Linked DNA regions of Homo sapiens: region 1 is linked to region 2. Evidence: fine-mapped expression QTL. A gene starts in region 2. The other region holds a variant in brackets. All regions are shown on one strand. Distances are between the middles of the regions. Region 1 overlaps LOC105370777 (a long non-coding RNA gene). Region 2 holds the start of LINC02915 (long intergenic non-protein coding RNA 2915).

The links.
Region 1: its variant is fine-mapped to the expression of LINC02915 in fibroblasts (GTEx, PIP 0.97).

Annotation. Positions count from the first base shown.
Region 1 is chr15:39,272,153-39,283,390 of GRCh38, reverse strand. The region is part of intron 1 of LOC105370777 (a long non-coding RNA gene); the gene reads left to right. Among named protein-coding and RNA genes, the nearest start is that of LINC02915, 27 kb to the right of the region's middle. RefSeq lists enhancers at 7,524-8,023, 8,024-8,525. The variant C/A (reference allele first, on the strand shown) is at 6,212.
Region 2 is chr15:39,243,832-39,255,069 of GRCh38, reverse strand. LINC02915 (long intergenic non-protein coding RNA 2915) reads right to left here and starts at 4,401. Exons shown (of 2, transcript NR_144508.1): 1 at 4,207-4,401; 2 at 225-3,011. All of the region lies in intron 1 of LOC105370777 (a long non-coding RNA gene), which reads left to right.

The sequences.
Region 1 (11,238 bases), 28 kb before region 2:
AAAAAGATAGACATGATAGACATAATTTAGGGAGTAGAAATTCAAATCTTCCAGAGAGTCACAGGCAAGCTGAAAATAGTAGCAAGAACAGAAACAAATGATAGTTTAGGTTAACTTTGGTATTAATGTACATCAGCTGCTGTGGCTATGTAGTCATTGGCCAGTCTCAAGGAGAGGTTCAGAATCTCTGAAACTGTGGCATGGAAGTGGTGGTGATCCACTCAAGTCCCATGTCAAGAAGGAGGTACTCATTCCTACATCTGTGGGAGTGTGGCAGTGGATGGCTCCCAGTTGATTCTCCTCCAAGAACTGGCCTCGGCCATCGGTGCTGCCTTGCCCAAGGTCATGTCCCATCCCCAAGGTCTTCCCACACGAAATGGCTGTCTTGCGTGCATCAAGGCAGCACAACTCTGGGGGCCACCACAGCCCCAGGGCTTCCTGTAGGATGGCTGGGGCCCCTGCTGTGCATGCATCATAGTCCAACCTCTCTTGGCCCAATCCTAAAAGCAGTTCTTCATAAAGCTTTTACATGCAATCTCAGAGCCTCAGAGTCTGTCCCCTGGGGATCCTGATTTACCACATATTCTTTCAAAACAGTTAAAGTGTCTGTTCATATTCTGCACCCACTCATTGATGGGGTTGTTTGTTTTTTTCTTGTAAATTTGTTTGAGTTCTTTTTAGATTCTGGATATTAGCCCTTTGTCAGATGAGTAGATTGCAAAATTTTTCTCCCATTCTGTAGGTTGCCTGCTCACTCTGATGGTAATTTATTTTGCCGTGCAGAAGCTCTTTAGTTTAATTAGATCCCATTTGTCAATTTTGGCTTCTGTTGCCATTGCTTTTGGTGTTTTAGACATGAAGTCCTTGCCCATGCCTATGTCCTGAATGGTATTGCGTAGGTTTTCTTCTAGGGTTTTTGTGGTTTTAGGTCTAACATTTAAGTCCTTAATCCATCTTGAATTAATTTTTGTATAAGGTGTAAGGAAGGGATCCAGTTTCAGCTTTCTACATATGGCTAGCCAGTTTTCCCACCCCCATTTGTTAAATAGGGAATCCTTTCCCCATTTCTTGTTTTTGTCAGGTTTGTCAGAGATCAGATAGTTGTAGATGTGTGGTATTATTTCTGAAGGCTCTGTTCTGTTCCATTGGTCTGAATCTCTGTTTTGGTACCTGTACCATGCTGTTTTGGTTACTGTAGCCTTGTAGTATAGTTTGAAGTCAGGTAGCATGATACCATCTCACACCAGTTAGAATGGTGATCGTTAAAAAGTCAGGAAACAACAGGTTCTGGAGAAGATGTGGAGAAATAGGAACACTTTTGCACTGTTGGTGGGACTGTAAACTAGTTCAACCATTGTGGAGGACAGTGTGGGGATTCCTCAGAGATCTAGAACTAGAAATACCATTTGACCCAGCCATCCCATTACTGGGTATATACCCAAAGGATTGTAAATCATAGTACTATAAAGACACATGCACACGTATGTTTATTGCAGCACTATTCACAATAGCAAAGACTTGGAACCAACCCAAATGTCCAACAATAATAGACTGGATTAAGAAAACGTGGCACATATACACCATGGAATACTATGGAGCCATAAAAAATGATGAGTTCATGTCCCTTGTAGGGACATGGATGAAGCTGGAAACCATCATTCTCAGCAAACTATTGCAAGGACAAAAAAACAAACACTGCATGTTCTCACGCATAGGTGGGAATTGAACAATGAGAACACTTGGACGCAGGAAGTGGAACATCACATACCGGGGCCTGTTGTGGGGTGAGGGGGGCTGGGAGGGATAGCATTAGGAAATATACCTAATGTAAATGACGAGTTAATGGGTGCAGCACACCAACATGGCACATGTATACATATGTAACAAACCTGCACGTTGTGCACATGTACCCTAGAACTTAAAGTATAATTAAAAAAAAAAAAGTTAAAGTATGTTAGAACATGCTGGAGAAAACAACCCCTGGATATCTGCCACAGCTATTCTCCATATTCCAGGGAATAAAACAAAACCACCTCACCAAGAATCCTTAGAATGCTCCTTGCTATGAAAGAAACGAATTTTATCTCTAAACAACCCACAGAGGTGAGATGTCAATGGCTCCACCAGCTACACCAGTAGTATGTGTCATTTCCCACTTATCATTACCAGTTCCTTTAAATGAAGAACATTTTGAGCAACAGGTTTTTTAAAGGAGTTGGAGAGTATTCTCACATTAATATCTATAGAATGATAATTAGAAAAGATAAAAGGATACTTTTATCATATGGATTAAGAATGATTTTCTTATCTAAATATGACTACAAATGTGTTCACATTTTTGTTCCATCTGTCCTGATCCCTGAGTCCTTAGCACATTGGCAACAATGATTGGCTCAATTCTTTCACAAAGTTTATTTTGACTAATTGGTTAAATTTTTAATAATTCGGATATAGTTTTTTTTTTTTTTTTTTTTTTTTTTTAAACAGAGTCTCGTTCTGTCACCCGGGCTGCAGTTGCGATGGCACGATCTCAGCTCACTGCAACCTCTGCCTCCTGGGTTCAAGTGACTCTTGTGCCTCAACCTTCCAAGTAGCTGAGATTACAGGCACACGCCACCACACCTGGCTAATTTTTGTATCTTTAGTAGAGACGGGTTTTACCATGTTGGTGAGGCTGGTCTCGAACTCCTGACCTCAGGTGATCCACCCGCCTCACCCTCCCAAAGTGTTGGGATTACAGGCGTGAGCCACTGTGCCTGGGCATATTTACAGTTTTAAAATCCCTTTTAGTCACTGTGCAGCCCCCATGATCCCATGTTCTATAGCTGACTAGAGGTTTATGAACTTTTTTAAACGTAAGTTAGGATGGCTATTAGTGGGTAAACCTTCTCTTCCAAACTCTGTGGGTGCTGCTCATAAACATGATACTTGTTCCTCAAATAAATGCTCAATTTGTTAATTTGCAATTTGGGATTTTCAAATTTATGGCTTCCAAGTTCTACATCAGATACTAAAATCAGGTTATCAGATAGGCAGGTAGTTTAGCAAAGTACATATGCTTATTTTCTTAGGTTCTAGAAAATCTGGTCTAAATCTAAACCTGGTCATTCTTTTATGCTTGGAAAATCCTCCTACTTCAGGAGTTGGGGGATGACCATAGTCAAGAACTGAAAAGAATGTTCAGAGTTGGGAGCTGAGCTGAACTTGTGGTAACGAATCTATGCCTCCCTTTCTTCAGTAGCTTTGAAGGGAAGTCACAGTCAATGAAATGAAGAAAAAAAAAGGAAGAATGTGGGGTTTGAGGCGTATTTTTATTGAAGTTTATTAAATTACATTACCTAAATGTAATTATAGTAAAATGCACATTTCTCAAATTTTGATGATCCCAGTTACACAGAACATTTACACAGAACTTTACATCACCCTAGAAAATTCCCTCGCGCTTTTTCCCAGTCAGTTCCCCACTCCCTCCCAAAAAAGTTAATCTCTGTTTCGATATCCTGACAAATTAGCTTTGCCTGTTTGCCTATTCTTTTTATTTACATATTGTTAACTTTTTAATTTCTAAAATTTTTGTGGGTACATAGTATGTATTTATGAGGGGCATGAGATGTTTTGATACAGTCTTTGCCTGTTCTTGAAATTGACATAAATGGACTCTTGTGTCTGGCTTCCCCATTGCACCTCTGCCCTCAACGTATTATCTTTGAGATTCATCCAAGTTATCACATGTATCGGTAGTTAATTCATTTTTTCTGCTTTGGTTGACTCATTTTGCATTGTATAAATATACCACAATTTGTTTATCCATTTTCCTTTTAATGGACATCATGTTGCTTTTAGTTTTTGGCTATTGTGAATAAAGCTGCAAAGAACAATCTTGTACAAGTTACTTGGTGGACATATGTTTTCATTTCTTTTGGGTGAACACCAAGGAGAGGAATTGCAAGATCGTAAGTAACATTTGGCATTTTTAGGCTTTTTAATTTTAACCATTCTAGTGGGTGTATAGTGGTATCTCATTGTAGCTTTAACTTTTATTTTCCTGATTACTCACATGTTGAGCATTCTTATATCTTCTTTTGTGAAATGTCTGTCCAAATCTTTTGCCCATTTTTATTGGGTTATTTGTTTTGTTTAAAAACTACTTAATTGCAAGAATTCTTTATATTGCCCAAATACATATCGTTTGTGAAACATATGTATTTTTAGTGTTCTATTTTTTTTTTTTGAGACGGAGTCTTGCTCTGTTGCCCAGGCTGGAGTGCAGTGGTGCGATCTTGGCTCACTGCAAGCTCCGCCTCCCGGGTTCATGCCATTCTCCTGCCTCAGCCTCCTGAGTAGCTGGGACTATAGGCGCCTGCCATCACGCCCGGCTACTTTTTTTTTTTTTGTATTTTTAGTAGAGACGGGGTTTCACCGTGTTAGCCAGGATGGTCCGGATCTCCTGACCTCGTGATCCTCGCGCCTCGGCCTAGTATTCTATTTTATATCGTTCCTTGACTTTTTATTTTTACCCTTTGCTTTATTCTTCAGTAGTTGATCCTAGGGATCCATCTATCTATCTATCTATCTATCTATCTATCTATCTATCTATCTATGTATCTATCCATCCATCCATCCATCCATCTGATATGGTTTGGCTGTGTCCTTACCGAAATGTCATCTTGAATTGTAATCCCCATAATCCCTATGTGTCTAGGGAGAGATCTGGTGGGGGTTGATTGGATCATGGGGGTAGTTTCCCCATGCTGTTCTCATGATAGTGAATGAGTTCTCACGAGATCTGATGGTTTTATAAAGGGCTCTTCCTTCTTCGCTCATCACTATTCTCTCTCCTGCCGCCCTGTGAAGAAGGTCCTTGCTTCTGCTTTGCCTTCTCACATGATCGTAAGTTTCCTGAGGTCTCTCCAGCCATGTGCAACTATGAGTTAATCAAACCTCTTTCCTTCGTATATTACCCAGTCTCAGGATATTTCTTTATAGCAGTGTGAAAACAGACTAATACACTATTTATCTGTATTAATTTGTTCTCACACTGCTATAAAGAAATACCTGAGCCTGGGTAATTTATAAAGAGGTTTAATTGGCCCCCAGTTCTGCAGGGTGTATAGGAAGCAAGGCAGTGTCTGCTTCTGGGGAGGCTTCAGGGAGCTTTGACTCATGGCAGAAGGCAAAGCAGGAGCAGGTGTATTACATGGCAGGAGAAGGACCAAGGTGGGGGGTGCCACACACTTGTAAACAACCAGATCTCACGAGAACTCACTATCATAAGAACATTGCCAAGGGGTATGGTGTTAAACTATTCATGAGAAACTGCCTCCATGATCCAATCATCTCCCACCAGGCCCTACCTCCAACATTGGGGATTACAATTCAACATGAGAATTGGGTAGGGACACAGATCCAAACTATATCACTGTCTATATATCTCTTAGTATAGTATGTCTTGAACTTTATGTGTAATGTAAGAGGCTTACAACAGTATAATACCATTTGCCTTCCCAGTCTTTTTTGCTATTACTGTCGTATAATTTGCTGCTATATAGATTACAAACCCCTAATTACAAGGCTTTTATTTTAACTTTAAATCTGTTTTTTCAAAGATATTAGGAAAAAATAGTATTACGTATTTATCTACTTCTTTACCATTTCAGGTACTTTTTAAGCTTTCCTGTAGAACTAAGTTATCAAGTTTCAGACTAGTATGATTTCAGCATGAAAACCTGTTTTTTTTTTTTTTTTTTTAGCATTTCTCACAACGTAGGTCTACTGGCAAAGGATTCTTCTCAGCTTTAGTTGATATGAATATGTCTTCATTTCATCTTTGCTTTGAAGGATATTATTACTAGATATATGTTCTTTTTCTGGATATAGAGAACTCTAGGTTGACAGACCTTGTGTGTGTGTGTTTTGAAATGAGGCTGCACTGTTTTCCTGAAAATCAGCCATTTTTTTTTATTATTGTACTTCTACATATTGTTTATTTGTCTGTTTTTAGGATATTCTTTCTTTTCAGAATGTGTTGTTATGTGCTTACAATGTGTGGCCGTTATTCCCACAGACTTTTGATTTTTTTTTCCTATCACTTTCTTCTGAGACCGAGTACAGAGTCCAATGACAGCTTGCTGTTTTCTCATAGGCCTCTAGTGCTCTGCTCAGTATTTTCTTCAGTCATTTTTTTTTTTGCTTCATTTTGGATTGTTTCTTC[C/A]TGTGCTAAATTCAACATTAGGGCCTGCTCCAAGACAGTTTCTGTTGACTGATATTTTTCCTGAATATAGGTCATACCATCTTATTTCTTTGCCTATCTCATGATATTTTGTTGAAAACCAGTCATTTTAGCAAATAGATGATGTCAAAATTCTGGATTCTTACTTTCCCCCCAAAGGTTGTTGTCATTTTGTTGTTGCTGCTGCTCTTGCTGTTTTAGTAAGTTGCCTAGACTTATTCTGCAGAACTTGTTTCCCCACTGATGTCAGGCAGCTATTTTTTTCTTTTTTTTTTTTAATTCTTATTTTCATTTTACTAGCCTGGGTTCCCACGGGATTCCCCTGCATCTTGTAGTTTAGTGGTCACCCAAAGACTGGTCAGATGTTGTGCTCAAACACCTCAAGCCAGCAGAGCTTCCACCTTCTGCTGATGTGGTAACAGGAGCATGTTCCAAGTTCAGACAGTTTTCAAGTCTTCCCTGGGTTTTACTTTCAACTGGGCCCTTCTGGGTGTCCCATGAGCATGTGTGTAGCATCCCATCCCCGTCTGCCTGGGGTCTTATCTAGGCTTTCTGCAGTGCTCTCATTTCTAGGATCTCTTTGCTAAATGTCTGGCTAGTCTGCCAGCCTGAAATGCCCCCGATCTGTGAGAGCAACCTCAGACTATGAGGCATGTGTGTTACTAGCCTTATTATTTTACTGACAGTCCCACTAGACACGAGTGAGCCCTGCTAGGAGTGAAGCTGCTGGTTTTCATGACCAGCCCTGCCCTGGTAGAACTACCAAGACCCTTGAGCTGGAGAGATGATGGGAGCAGCCCCAGGCAAGAATACCATGGAGGCCCAAAGTCTATCTGTCTTTTATTTAATGGGTAAATCCTTCTCAGTTGGTTTGTTTGCTTATTTTCTTGTCTTTGCTTAGTTTTCAAAGGCCTAAAATTGTTATTTTTGACAATGTTATCCAATTTTACAGTCATTTCTTGGGGAGATTTACTGATTATCATGGTGAGAAATCTTTCTCTGACAGATATATTTTGACAAAGGAGAGGCAGAAAAAGACAAAGGCTATGATAGCATGAGAAAGCTACTAGGAACAGTTTTCCCTGTGATTTGTAAACCTGTAACTAAACCTCCAGGCTTTTGGTTCAAGGAGCTGTAAGGATTAAACATCCCCGAATACAGTTATTTTAACCAAATGACTCGACGATGAAACAGGTTTAATAATATGCATAATTATTGTGTCATGGGAATTAAATACTAGGATAAAGAATTTACAGAAAATATATCATATTTTATACATATTTATATGTATCTTTTTGTAATACACATGATATATACTACAAAAATTATAATTACTACCATATCTAGCTCAGAAAATCTTTAGATTTTTTTAAAATTATGAGAATGATTAAGGATCCTAGAAGACTATCAATATCAGCATTTTTCCTTGATGCTTCACTTAATGGAAATTGGTGCCATCCTAAATTAAATGTTAAATAGTAAGTGTTGTATTCCTTGCTCTTTGTTTCTGTCAGATATTAGGGACAGAGACAAGTTATCAGCCCCTCCATCTCTGCTCCAACTCTCTGAAACCTTTATGAGGACCTCATGTTCCCTTAACTGGAGGCAAAGCCCTTTCCTTCCAGCAGCAGCGAGGAGAGGCGGTGAACACGCAGGGTGATGGCCTCTCAACCCCCTGCCATGTGGCTGGCTCACAGCCTTCTCAGCTTGCATGTGAAAAAGGAGTTTATGGGCCACCTGATGGCCCTGGCTCTGAAGAGATGGAAGAAACAAGGGGTCTTCTAAGCGTCAGGAAGCTGATGCTGTCTGTTGAGAGGCTTCTCTGACATCACTCCCTCACCTTCTACCACCCTGCTCACCTGCCTCCAGGCTCTAGCAACTGGGCTACTTGCCGCGGGCCTCTAGGCCAGCATGGAAATCCCCACAGCAGAGGGAAATCCCAGCAGAGGCCTAGGGTCCCCAAGGATAGCATGCAGGCCTGGAGGGGCTGGGGAGAGGGGCAGGAGGGCCAGCTGCTTCCCACTGCTGCCTCAGGAAAATGAGGCAGAACTAGACTATCCTAAAGACCTTACTGATTTTCACTGAACTTCTGTTCAGCTTTTGTTGGCCCTTATCTTCTGGTCTCCTGTAAGATTTTTTTCTGGGCATCAAGGATTGGACTAACCAAGCTTCACCTTTTGTTTTTGTTACTTGTGTGTTTCGTCTCTTTTCCTCAAATATCAGGTTAGGGTGTGTGGCGGTGACATTACTTCTTCAGCTATTTATCTTTCTATAATATTTCCATAGTCCTCTCCCTATTTCTCTGCAGTTTCAGCCTTTTTTGTTTGTTGTTTGTTTTTGAGACAGGGTCTCATTCTGTCACCCAAACTGGAGTACAGTGGCACGATCATAGCTCACTGCAACCTTTGCCTCTGGAGGTTCAAGCCATTCTCCCACCTTAGCCTCCTGAGTAGCTGGGACTACAGGTGCATATCACCATGCCTGGCTAATTTTTGTATTTTTAATAGAGATGAAGTTTCACCATGTAGCCTAGGCTGGTCTTGAACCCCTGGGTTCAAGCGATCTGCCTGACTCAGCCTCCCAACGTGGTAAGATTACAGGCATGAGCCACTGCATCTGGCCTCTGCAGGTTCAGCTTTTAATATTTTGCACGAGTTCATCAGGTCAAATTTTAGTTGTGTTCCAAATAGAATACAAAACATTCTGGTAATTGACGAGTACAGTGTTTCTCAATCATAGCTGCTTATTAGAATCACTAGGTGGACGAGGCTATTTGAAAATCCTGGTACCCAGGCTGTACACTCTGGTCCAGTGAGACCAGAATCTCTGGTTGTGCAATCCAGGTAGTCTGTACTAAGAAACAGTGCTCTCATGGCAAGTAATACCTTTATGTGGCACACTAATATTTGTCTTTGCTGTTTTATCTTAAACCAACATTTACCACATCCTCAAAGGATACATTAGAATATTAATTGGCAAAGAGTATAGCCATGCAGAAACTGAATTATATCATGGTCTCCATTGCAGTCTGTAAATACTTCTGAGGTCGTGTTGGCAGAATGCCTTTCAGTGTCCTTGTATTTGCTAGCTGCTTTGGTGGCTGACAGCCTAAAAGAGACTTGCCTCAGGAGAGCAAATAAGAAAAAACAAATAAAACTGTAGATATGGATGTCGTCACATTTCAAAGACTGCTGGCCCATTATGTAAAATGCAATGACACATTATTACAAATATTTACCTTAATTTTTCCCCCCTGTAGTCTTTGTTCTCATTTAAACACTGAATGGCCATTGACTTCTTTTGAAAAAGAAAAAGAAAAATGGTAAGTCTTTCACTACCTTTCTCTTCAGACTTGACTTAGATTTCCTAGTCCCGCTGTTTGAGATGACTTGATTGCCTCTGTTTCAAGCTCTGTGGTTCATTTCTTCAGCCTCTAAGCTGTTTCAGCTTCCTTTAGGCCATGGATAGAAAGCTGGTGAAAATCGGCAAATATTTTGCATAAATAGTTGTTGGACCCCAAACCTCCACAAACCAACTTTTGAGTTTTTTTCTTTTTAAGGAGAAATGGGTAGAGAAGTGAGAACCAGTTTTATGGATCTGGTGCCTAGCAAGGTGCCTGGCAGGCAGTCTGAGAGCCCCAGATATTTGTTGAGAACCTGAAACACAGTGCTCGATGGAGTTCTCCTCTATTTCTAATCGCGGATGGTATTCGGGGGTTAGCAAGCAGAAAGAATTTCCCGGCATGAGAGAGGTAAAAGGGAAGAATGTCTCATCCAGAATTTTGGCAATTCCATTTTAGAATTTTCTTTTAATTGGAGGGGCATATTGTTTGTTTGCTTTTTAAAGAAAAGAATCACAGTTATTTTAGGATGTGTGATCCTGGAAGATATTATATTCAGATCTATTTAAAAGAAAAACATTTAACTTTTTTCCAAGACTCAGTCCCTGCTCTAAGTTTTCTCATAGTGCGTAAGTTTGTCAGGCATGTTTCTATATTCATTGGAAAGAATAAATGACAGTTGGAAATAGAAGGATTGGGGCAGCTGCAAATGACAGGCAGGCTGCACACTGGAAATGCCATGGGGTAGAATTCCTGAGACTGCAGTACAAGCAGTATTCCCTAGACCTGTGAACTTCAGTGGTCCTGAGAAGGAGACTGGACCTTCTTCATGCCAGTAATGACAGTGAAGAATCACAGTTGTCATTTCCACCTCTGCTTACAATATTCGGTTGACTAGTGTTTAAGGGTATTCAGTAATTGTATTCTCAGATCTGGTCCATGCATTGCTACCTTAGTCCACTTTAGGGGTAATAGCATAGGCATAGGAAGAACATCTACTGACCTGGTAGAAAAGATGCTCTGATAACATATGCATCGTTTATTTGGACAATAATAACATTCCAAGGAGCAAAGGTCAGACTGTGCCTTTCATCATTTTCTCAGACAGTCTTCTTTTAGCCACAGCACCTCAGCTGGGGCAACCATGAAGTACAGCTAATTTTCCAGTAGAGGACAGAACTGTGGTTTGCTATGTAGAATAATCTCAGCCTGCTATAATTAATATTATTTTTCTCCCTGTTCTTCCTGTCATTCCCATCATGATATAATAGCTCACTACTACCCAAGAGTCACAGAAAACTAGATAACTAGATGGAATTGTTTGGCCTGGTCCTCTGGATAAACATCTCTTGCCATTGTCACACTGAGGGTCCCCTCTTAGCCCAGTCACCTGGTTTCTCCATATGATTCTGGAATCTGGTTGTCTGTTGGACTCTCATAGAAGTTCCTCTGGAGGAAAGACCGTCCACTCAGTCTACAGCCAAGCCAGGATAGGATAGGTATGAAGAGTGCTGGGTTTTCAGGAAGCAGGAGAAAGATCACCAGGCTGAGGGGCTTCCCCAGGTCCTTTCTGAAAACAGATTTGCTAGATCCTCATGACAGTTCAAACTGAGTGTTTAAGGACTTGTACTCATATACTGAATATTATGTCTCTATAATCAGGGGAGTG
Region 2 (11,238 bases):
AAGTTCTTGGTCAAGTATTATCATTCATTGAATGATGTTTTCCTTGGTTTGAAAACTAGTGAAGGGTGATGGGAACTTGTGGCGAGTTAGGGAGGAGAAGGGGCGCAATCTTAGCGAGGAAGAGGGAGGAGCATAATGGGAAGAACATTTGGTGCAATATTCGCTGAGTTCTAGCTCAGATTTAATCTAAGTTTTATCAGTCAAATGGAGACCTTGATAATTACTTTTTAAAAAAAAGTTTTATTGTAATTGACAAATAATTTTGTATATTTATGGGGTACAATGTGACTTTTTGATACATGTATATACACTGTGGAATGAGCAAATCAGGCTAATTAGCATATTTATTTTCTGAAACAATTATTTCGTTGCGGTAAGAACATTAAAATTCTCTTTGTTTAGCTATTTTGAAATATATAATACATTACTATTAACTATAGACACTGTGCTGTGCAATAGAACACCAGAATTATTCCTCCTAACTGAAACTTTGTATCCGTAGAGCAATGTGGACATTTTCCCTGTCTAACTCCCCACAGCCAATTCCGGGTTTATACCCAAAGATATTTAAATCAGTATTTCAAAGGGATGTTTGAGCTCCTGTGTTCATTGCAGCATTATTCACAAGAGCCAAGATAAGGAATCAACCTAAGTGTCCGTCAGCTGATGAACAGATTTTTTAAAATGTGCTGAATATACAAAATAGGATACTATTTAGCCTTAAAAAAAAAAACAGGCAATTCTGCCATTTTCAAACAGGGATGAACCTAAGGACATTATGTTAAGTAAGATAAGTCAGGCACAGAGCGACAAATACCATATGATCTCACTTATATGTGGAATCTAAAAAGGTAGAAATTGTAGAATTAGAGAGTGGAATATTGATGACTACTTCTTAATGTGTATTTGGAGTTTGAATGACTAAATATACATAAAGCGCTTATATTTGAACATATAAGATGTTACAGATATTTTTTCTGTCCCTTGCCCCATCTTTCCTAGTATAATAAAGTTATGCTACAAGTTAGTCACTTACGAATTCCAATTTGAGGATTCAGTTTGTGACTTTTGCTGGTTCTGAGAAATCAAGAAATACTGAGCCATTGCATGAACAGTGTCACTAAGTATAAGAACCTGAGAAGTTCAACTTCAACAATTCTTAAAGTCTCCCTTGAGTAGAAGGTGAATGAACTGTCATAATTGGGCAAGAAGTGAGTTTATTCTGATTGCAACAGTAGGCAGCTATTAAGAGACGAGTGTAACTCTGGATAGAAGTTTCTATGGTTTCTGCCTTCAGCCTTGTCATGTTCAACATTCTAATCAAGACCTAGATCAAAGGAGAAGTTGATGAGCTTAGTATTCAGCTGAGAGAGATGGGCTATGTTGGCTAGAAATTAAGCAATGAGCTCAATCTAGAAGATACAAGTTCTGAAGTTGGACTCTTAGAAGCAACTGAGGCTCAAGCACTTCTGTAGGCACTACATTCTGGGTAATTTAAAAAATGTGTATACTTATTCTCACATCCTTTAAGCTCAGCTGAAATCTACTCTGCAAAGTCATGCTTGAACCCTTGCTTTGAGCTAAGTGTTCTGTCAATTCCAACATATACACCTGTAATAAAACTGCTGAAATAATGTTAAAGACTCTTTAAAGCCAGGATCTTTACCATATTAATTTTCGTACTCCCAATGTCTAGCGTAGTGCCCAGCACATAAGGAATTTCCAATAAATTATCGGCTGTTGCTAGAATAAAAATTCAAAAGTAGGCAGTGTTGAGTTGGCAACTTAATTTTCTAAAAAGTATTAATTGCCTGCCTATATGGACAATAGAAACAACAACAACAAGAATATCCTGCCAATAAATCAGGCTTTTTGGCTGGTGCCTTGTAGTGCCTTGTAAATATTAGTAAGCATGTTTCCTATTCTAAAGTAGGTTTAAAAAAAAAAAAACTTAAATTCAGTAACTTCGTTTCACCTTCTTGAAGAACCTGCATTTCCTTTACATTTATAACCATTAGAGTGAGGCATGTTAAATAATTCAAATGAGAAATCCTAGTTTCCACCTTTATGTATCTCTCGGGTTTTCCTTTGTTCACCCAGTCTCCTGCAAAAATCATCAAATGTTCAAATTTATAGTTTGTGACTTGGTCACCCTGAACCTCTTGGTGACCCGGAATGAACATGAGATGCTGTTATTTAGCACTTGGAGCTCAGTTAGATATTAGTTTTCCTATAGTGAAATACTCTGATGCCAGTGAGGAAGGAAATCAGAAACAGGAATCAGACGATTCTGGCCAATCCTCCCAATACGAGGAGAGTGTCACTGACGGAAATGGGTCTGGATACTGGGTTTCTCTCTCCTAAATCCTTTGATGCCAGTTATTAAAATGGGTTACTTCTTACAGCCATGACATTGAACACTTCAATGAAATGATGCAAGATTTGGACTCCAAAATGTCCCCTCTCTCCCCTGTCAGCAGCATGAGCCTGAGCACGGCAAGAGTCAGCCAATATAGTGCACACACGCTTTGTTGAACTCATGTTCTTCCACCCAGGAGACTGAGGTTTCTGTGCAAAGAGTAATGTCAATCCGCTGGAAATCACTGGGTTGTCTGTTTCTTTGTTTATGACTTCTCCATATAGTTGGTTCTGCTCCAACTTATTTGAAAGGGACATCTGTTGGATGATTTGATGTGATGTCTGTTCCCTGAAAGTCATTTCTGACAGGGCGATGTAAAGGAACCTGAGAGGGAGCTCCGTCATGTGATGAGTGGCTCTTAAGTGCAGGAACAGATTTGAGAGGATTATCCAAGACAGTAACTTCAAGATCAAACTAGGCCATGGAGTTAGCCATAAGGCTCTGCAAATTCTTTGCGGCTCAGCCCTCTGGGGTCTCCTGCCACCGTGCTTGCCAGTAATGAATTTCACTTCCATGTGGGATCTTTCAGGTCTTCTTGACACACTGAAGCCATATGTGTTTCAGCCACTTCAGACATCATCCTGCTCTTTAACTTGAAGAACAGTCTAAGTCAGTGAGGTTTGCCATGGCATCAAATCTCCTTTTAAACCCACACCGCTTGAATAATAACTATGATTCTGGATAGTTGACTCATGAATATTTCCTGCGAAGGAACAATGAGGGTATTCTGAGGAAATTAAATCCATACAAGTAATTCCCAAACTTTATTCATGTTTGAATACTTTCTAACTTCAAATGTTTTTACCAGACTGGTAACACATAGCAAAATCAACTGATAAGATTGTCCTTTTTTCTTTCTTCCTCTTCCTCTACCTAACACTTCTCTAGTGTGGTACTAACTGGAGAAGGCACAAAGAGTAAGTAGATAGAAAGGGAAATGAAAAGTCAAAGAGCCCTACACTTTTTTTTCCCCCCTCTCTCCTGGTAGTCCTACTTCAAAGGCAGTGTAGCTTTCTCAGAAAGGCCAACCCACACTCAGAGGGTGAAGTTGGAAAACCCCAGCAACCCTATGATACACAATAAACCCATGTAAGGAGGTGGTCCCTTACAAACAGTTGGCTATGAATATCTTCTTTCAAATAGTCTGACACTCGTGGCATAATTATTTTTGTAAGAGTCCTCAGGAAAGTCTGTTTTGAAATACTGCATAGCTTAAGACTACAATAGTACCTTGCATAGTTCAATGTAAACATATCCAGGTGGCTTGTGAAGAAGAGAGGAAGCCAGAGGTGATGCTTCTCTATAGGAAAATGACACTGCAGCCAGCCCCCCGAATCCTGAGAAGACCCTAAATACACCACTCCCCCTCCCCGACAACTACCCAAGTGATATCCTGTGAGTGACTGGATTCTAATCTATCGAATAGTTTCTGTACATGAAAAAAAAATCAATTTTGGAATAAGAGTTGCCAGCAGAAAGATTTCCATTTATTAGGCACCTACCAGGTGCCTGATTCTATTGGGTACATTAAAGATATTCTTTCATTTAGTTCTCACCTGGAAACTCTCAAGGCTTGTTCACATTTTACTGATGAGAGAAATAAGGCACAAGAAGATTAAACAAACAATCCAGGCCAACTCAAGTGGAGGGATGTGTGGTTGAGTTCAGGTCTGCCTGTAAATCGCTTGAGGCCAGAAACTTTTCTCTATTTTGTTCACTGATGTGTCCCAAGTGCCCAGAAGAATGCCTGGCAAATTGTAGCTGCTTAGTAAATATTGAATGATTACCTTAATGAGAGAATCCAGCACGTGTACTCCTAAGTATTATTCTCTACAGTTTCTCCTCAGTCTCCTCACTCCAGTCTGTTACCTGCCCCTTTCTCCCATCCCATTTCAAAGGGAAATGGAGCCCAGAGCTGCAGTGGATGCTGTAGAAAGTTATATCTCTGTGTACATCCTGCTGAAGGAATGGAGCGATTGTCAGGGAGCTGTGTCATTGAGTCTGAGGCCTTACTTCCTTGCTCTCCCCCTTCTATTTCCTGCTTCCTCCCACAAAGATTTTCTGAGTCCTTGCTGTGTGCTGAGCACTGGAGACTCACTATGAACAAAGTTGGTATGGTCCCTGTCCTTATGCAAATTATTGAATAAATTATAGGTACGGTGAGTGTTTTGACAGAGAGGTAAGAATGTTATAGAAACATATAACAAGAGGACTCAGACCTATTCTTTGAGGTCAGGAAAGACATCTTTGCAAATTTTAACTTTAAGACAAGATATTAAGGATAATTAAGAGTTCCTAATGTATACCTTGGGTTTCCTGGATGTCTCTGCCTAAGACACTTTTAGGGAGGAGTTAAGACTGTTTTCCTATAATACTAAGAAGTCATTTGCCTTTTCATTCTTATTGCATTACAAGTGTACAATGGAGTTTTACAGAAGCTGCATAACATAGATTTCACAACAGATTGAATGCAGAAGCAGACATGAGAATCCATTTATCCTTTAGTAAGCCAGATATTGGTAAGATTTGCAAAAAATGCATAACAGCACTACTAGTCTCACTCATGTATTTTTGGTTTTGGAAAACGTGGCTATGTTTTCATAAAATGTTATTTATGTTAAGGTATAATCAGTTTACTATGTTGTTTTAAAATGAATTAAATATTTAAAAAAGAATTGGTTCTAATTTGCAACATGATATAATGATATAATCTACCTTTTTTAAAATGAAAAGGTCTTTGGGGTTCTTCAGAAGATTTGAGAGCACAAAGGGGCCGAGCCCCAAAAGTTTGCGAATGGCTGAGCTAAGAGAAGAGGAGGAGGGAGTGTTCCACAGTGAATAAACAGCCTGTGTAAAAGCCCTTCCCTGGTATACGACTTGTAGTTTTGAGGATATTAAAGAAGTCCAATGTGGTTGGAACATAGAAAGTGATGGAGAGAGAATATAATATGCAGAACAATGGGTAAGCAGTGCCATATTTGAGAGCAATGACTTAATCTTAGGTCAGTGGGAAGTCACTGAAGGGTTTTAAGCAGGTTGGAATTGATGAGATACATGTTGAGAGAGGAAGGAAAAGGAAAGAAGAAAGGAAAAGAATGGGGGGACACAGAGAAGGGAGGTCAGGAGGCTTTTGGGGAAAACTTAGTAAGCTATGAGGGAGGGACAGTAGGGCTGGATAGAAGAGGATAGATGTAAATAATATTATGGAGAATCTAGAGGACTTGGGTTTGATTGTCAGTAGAGAGTGACTTGTTTTGTAAAAGAAGGAATGAATTTTCTCATGGTTTTTTAGTCATACCACTTGATTTTAAATTCTAGCGCTAATTCTGTGACTGTGAGCAAATTATTTAAACTCCATAAGCTACAATTTTCTCATCTGTAAAAAAAACAGGAACAAGAGCCACAATTTCATATGGTTGTTGAAGTTATTTTAAAATGCACACATATCTAATATAACTGGATTATCGTAATTATTTATTTGTTTCCCTTACCTTCTCTTTAACTCTCTTTCTTACCATTTTAAGATGGAGGGGGGAAGTTGGCAGTGTTCTTCAGGAAACATAAATTCTTGGGAAGGGAGTTTGGACACCATATGCAAAATCTCCTCCTGTGATTCCTCTACACACTGGAGGTGTGCTTTCCTCAAGCACTTGAAGCAAATGTGTTCTCTAGTCTCTTCTCTCTCTCTCTTTTTTTCCCTGAAGACTACTCTGTCATTTAAGTTCAGTTATTTTTGTCTTACCTGCTCACTTTGGACTTGAAACTTTGTCCCGTTCTTCTTGTTCCATAGTCTGATTCCTACTATTTTTTTCCTTCACCTTTCTCTTCCCAAAGTCTTAGGCTAGCCTTCTCTATTTCTCAGCTTTGTCATGCCCTTGACTTTGCAAGATTCTCTTTCCTGGCAACCACCATCTACAGACAAAATATTAATAACTTTGGAGGAGTTAGGACAGAGGCATTAAAATTATTGTAAATAAAGCCAGATAGTCCTTTTGACTGGGTCCTGAACTACCTTCTGTTATTCCTACAAGTATCTTTTGAAAGGCTGTTCTCAAATGCGTTGACTTGAGAATTTAGAGAAATATTCTTTCGGGCTGAAGGGAAAAGAGACAGAGAACTACAAGGTCACAGGACCATGACAATATGTTGCCTTTTGCCAAGTGGCCCTTATTAAACAGCCTAGGAGGTGAGTGGAGGAGAGCATGGGTCTGGCAGTCTGCCCTGGGACAAGGAGCTTTGTCTGCACGCAGGTTCCCAGCTCACAGACGGTCCATATTTGAATAGAGCCCATTGTTTACCACTTGGGTGGAAAACAGAGGAAATAGGCAATGAGTCAGGCACCCACTTGTTTCAAAAGGAATTTTTAAAAGAGTTTCAGGGAAATCTAAGAGAAAAATAGAAGTTTGAAGGAAGATGAAGGAGACAAGGACAAACTGAGGGCTGCTGGATGCTAATGACATGCTTTTCTTTGCTGATAGCCTATCATTCTGGGTCTGTGGGTTCCAACCCTGAACCTGAATCCAACAGGAAAGGTACTTCTGGAGAAGAGCTTCCACTCTGGGGAGGCATTCTGACTAAGATCTAATCTGAAGTAGTTTGGAGTAAATTGATCTGCCTCTTTTCTCCATTTAAAGGACATTTGCTAAAAATGCCTTCTTCTTCAAAGGGCCCGCAGAACAGAGAGAGGGGATTACAGTGTGTATAATTTTTGAAATATGGTAACTGATCAGCAAATGGCATAAACTTAGATCTTATACAGGTCCTGTTTTCTGTGACATGATTTCCTGATCTGCAGATGCCCTGACTGACATTCCGCTTTCCTATGGCTCAATGCTTGGTGTAGAAATGGTCTTTCCATTTTGTCATCTCATTTGGGAAAAAATGCATGATAGTGGAATGAATGCCACAGAAAGGAAGGAAATGAGTTGGTGTCTATGGCAAAGACTCAACTATGTTCTGCTGAAAGCTCTGGTTTGCAGTCCAAACTTGATATATTATCTATTTTTTTTAATTTTCAGAAACCTTATTTTTTTCCCCAAATTTGGAAAGAAAGGAATAAAATTCAGATATTACAGAAAAAAATCTCAAGGAAGCAAGTAAAAACAACCTGTAATCTGATCCCCAGAGATAACCAACATAGTATAATGCTGTATATCTTTTAATATATAAAATAGTAAAATATGTGTATATATGTATATATAATTAATGGAATATTTTATACATTCTTGTTAGTAACCTAAATTTTTCATCTATAATCTGTATCACAATTTTTATGTTATGATATATCTTATTCTTCCTCAACATAATTTTGGAGGCTGTTAAAACATTATTAAATCGTTCTCTAGTTTTAGACACTTAGATTAGTTTCACGGTTTTACTATTAAAATCCTTCCTACTAAAGTTTCCTAACAAATGTTCATTCATTATTCAGCAAGTATTTCTTGAGCACCTACTATGTTCTAGATATGAAATTAGGCAGTTTGTTGGGGGCAAAATGGTAAGACACAGATAGTCTCCTCTTTCAAGGGGTTTACTGAAAAGGAATAAATCTTGCCTAAATAATCGTGACTATTTAGGAGATGAATTTCCTTTTCCTATGGGTTTCATGTCCCTTTATATTCTCTATAAGTCTGGTTCATAAAGCTAACTTTTGTGGCTGGTTTGTTAAAGATTTTGTTAACTTATAAGCTAAATATGTAAGTTAGACAGCACTGACAATATTATCACAGTGATTATGATTGATATAATTTTATAAAAATAGGAAGTGCACAGAGAAATAGCTGAAATTGGACTCCATTATAATCAGAAAATCAGCTTAATAATATTGGGCTCAGAAATTCTAGTCTGCACAGTATAACTGAAGTTGTGCTTTGACAGCAGCGACTCAGATGGTGGTCACAACCTTACTTTATTGGGACAATGAAATATTTTAGTGGAGTCATTGGCATCTCACTCTGCTTCTGAAATCAGGGCCACCTCTATTATTACTTTCCCAGTAGAGATGACTGGTTTGCTCATTTGGTCAGCATACACTTTCCTCTGAAGTCAAGACTGTGGGATTGATTCCATTTGGTTCAGTGATTCTCTGACTACTTCAGGACCACTTCAGCTTGCATTTCTCAATTCTAAACATCCCTGGTAGAAAATCATATCCTTGTTATAGACAAAAAGATGAAGAATGCAGAAATATTTGATCAAAAGTGCCAGAGTCATGGTTGTAAAAGGCGTAATTTTAAGATGACTTCCAAGGCCCCTGAACTTGATATTATGCCCATATTAGGGTGAAAGGGAAATTGTCCAGGTAGGCAAAACTAATCATGCTTTTAAAAGCAGAGATTTTTCTCTGGCTGGCAGCAGACGAGGGAGTCAGAGAGATTTGAAGCATAAGAATAATTCAAACTACCATTGCTGGCTTGAAGATGGAGAACCCACATGGAAAGGGTAAGAAGAAAATGAATTCTGCCAACAACCAATGAGCTTGGAAGAAGTCCCCAAGACTCAGATGGGAATGGCAGCTGGCTGATATCTTGAGTGTGAGACTCTGAGTGAAGAATTAGCTAAGCTTACCTGGAATTGTGTGCAATAATAAGTGGCTATCGTTTCAAGTTTGCCTTGTTTGCATAATTTGTTATTCAACAGCAGAAATATAATACAGCGGTCAGAACAAACCAGATTTTATGCCTTACTGATACCAAGTTTGCAACCTCTTTACCTACCGTCAACCAAGGGCACATTTCTTGACAAATTTAAATAGGTAAGAATGAATTTTATGAATCTCTAAACCACCACATAATAGAAGAACATGGTATCATCAAAGGTATAAAGCCCATAATATATGCACATTTATCGATATTAATGAAAAGCTTCTTATAATTTATAAAAAACAAACTCATGGTAGTTTAACAAATGACATAATAGAAATACATGCAGGCTGCTGTTAGGGTATAGAGGAGGCTCACCTAACCCTACCTGGGTGGAGCAGGAAGAGTTTTTCCTAGAGGAAATGGTGATTGTCAAAGGAATGTAGGAGGCGACAACTTATGTTTACAGACCCTGTTCATGTGTGTAAAAAAATTGGGGGAGATAGAAGTCTACTATGATGAACCAAGAGGAGGGGTAGGAGGTGGATAAGGCAACTTGGGATTTCATTTCCTTTCCTACTCCAAGTCTTAGAGTGATCATCTCAGAGGAATGCTCTTATCAAGACCCTCACTTAAAAGCTTGCCCTGGTAGTAGAAGGTACTTCAATGACAGGCTAAAGGCAGCTTTTCACTACTCATCTAAAGTTGGAAAGGCTTTACATGTGAGTTAAGTTTAATGGAAGGTATCCCTACTGTGGGGGTATCTAAACCACAGGCATCTGAGAAAACCTTAGGTGAGGGCTGAATGCAAATAACGACAGTGCTGAGAATTTACAACCTAGAAAGGCTGAAAATATTGCAGTAATTATTATTACTGCTGCTTCTTAAATTCCTCATTTACAAAATCAAAGTAGGACCAATTCCTGTCTAATTAAGCCAACGTGGTGACAAAGAAAAAAGTTATTCTGAATGTTTTTATTTCTTTAACATTATCTCATTTCTTTGAACTATATTCACTGAATATGTTTTAATTTGATGACTCAAGTCAGTTGAAAATGAATAGAAACCATGTGTATTATTACATGCATGGTTGGGGACCAAGAAGAGCCATCAATGCTGCATCACCAGATGAACTGGCTTACCTCACTGGCTCATGTGTGAAAGTAAACATAGTTCCACAGGACTTTCATACTTTCTGTCAATCTGGCCATATAAATTGACAACCAGAGCTTAGCAAGTTCCTCAGAGATTAGGCAGATCCAATCAAGTTTGTAGGTGAAAGGGTCAAAATGAAGGTTAGAAGATAATTCCTCTGGTATCCTCATGTATTTTGAGAAAGAAAAGGGTCTAGTAAATTACAAAGATCCTCTTGTAGAAAGAACATTATATGAAAATGTACAAATGGAGTCATTTCTTGGGGGAGGTGTCTTGGTGTCCTGGGAGGCTACCTCACTTCTAAAGTCCTTAGATGTCTTCTGTGCTTGCAGTGAGTTCACCTGTTGAAACAGGTGGAACAGGTGGATGACTGTGGGGAAAGCCAAGGTGTCTTTTGGAGGATCCCACTTCTATTAACTTCATGATTGATACCTAGGAGTTATGGGAGAGACAGAGGATTTGTACTAATGCCAAACAAAAGACCAGTGCATTCACGTGGGCATGAAGGGAGGCAAATATAATCGAGCTACATGTCACTCACTCTCATTGTGCCATCACCCTACAAGTGATTGAGAAAGTAACCCCTCCCACAGTCAGATGGCCCTGTCCATCAGGAATCATATTAATGGCTGGTGCCAACCCAAATGTTTGCCTTTATCTTGTGCCACCATTGACTATTTTTCAGAAATCAGGATGTTGTTTCCCACTCTGAGATGTCTGGTTGAGCGGGTTTCGGTGTGATCAAGGAAATATGGCTGCCCTCACTCTAACTATTCCAGCTGCCTTGGCAGCCTCCTGGCACATCCCGAATGAGGTCATATATTTAGTAAGGCAATGTCTTACCTGAGAGATCTGAGACAAATAGAGACGTTTCTATATCTGACATTCAGAAAAGCTATAGGGATGAAGCTTTAGGGTATAATGGAATATAGAGAGGATTTCAAGGGAAACAGACCTGGGGTTACTGACTGTGTAATCTTGAGAAAGCTACTTTATTTCTCTGATTTGTCAATTCCTCTAATTTATCAACAAAATTGCCATGCATATTGCTTGGCATAATGCATGACAGAGTATTAGCTCAAA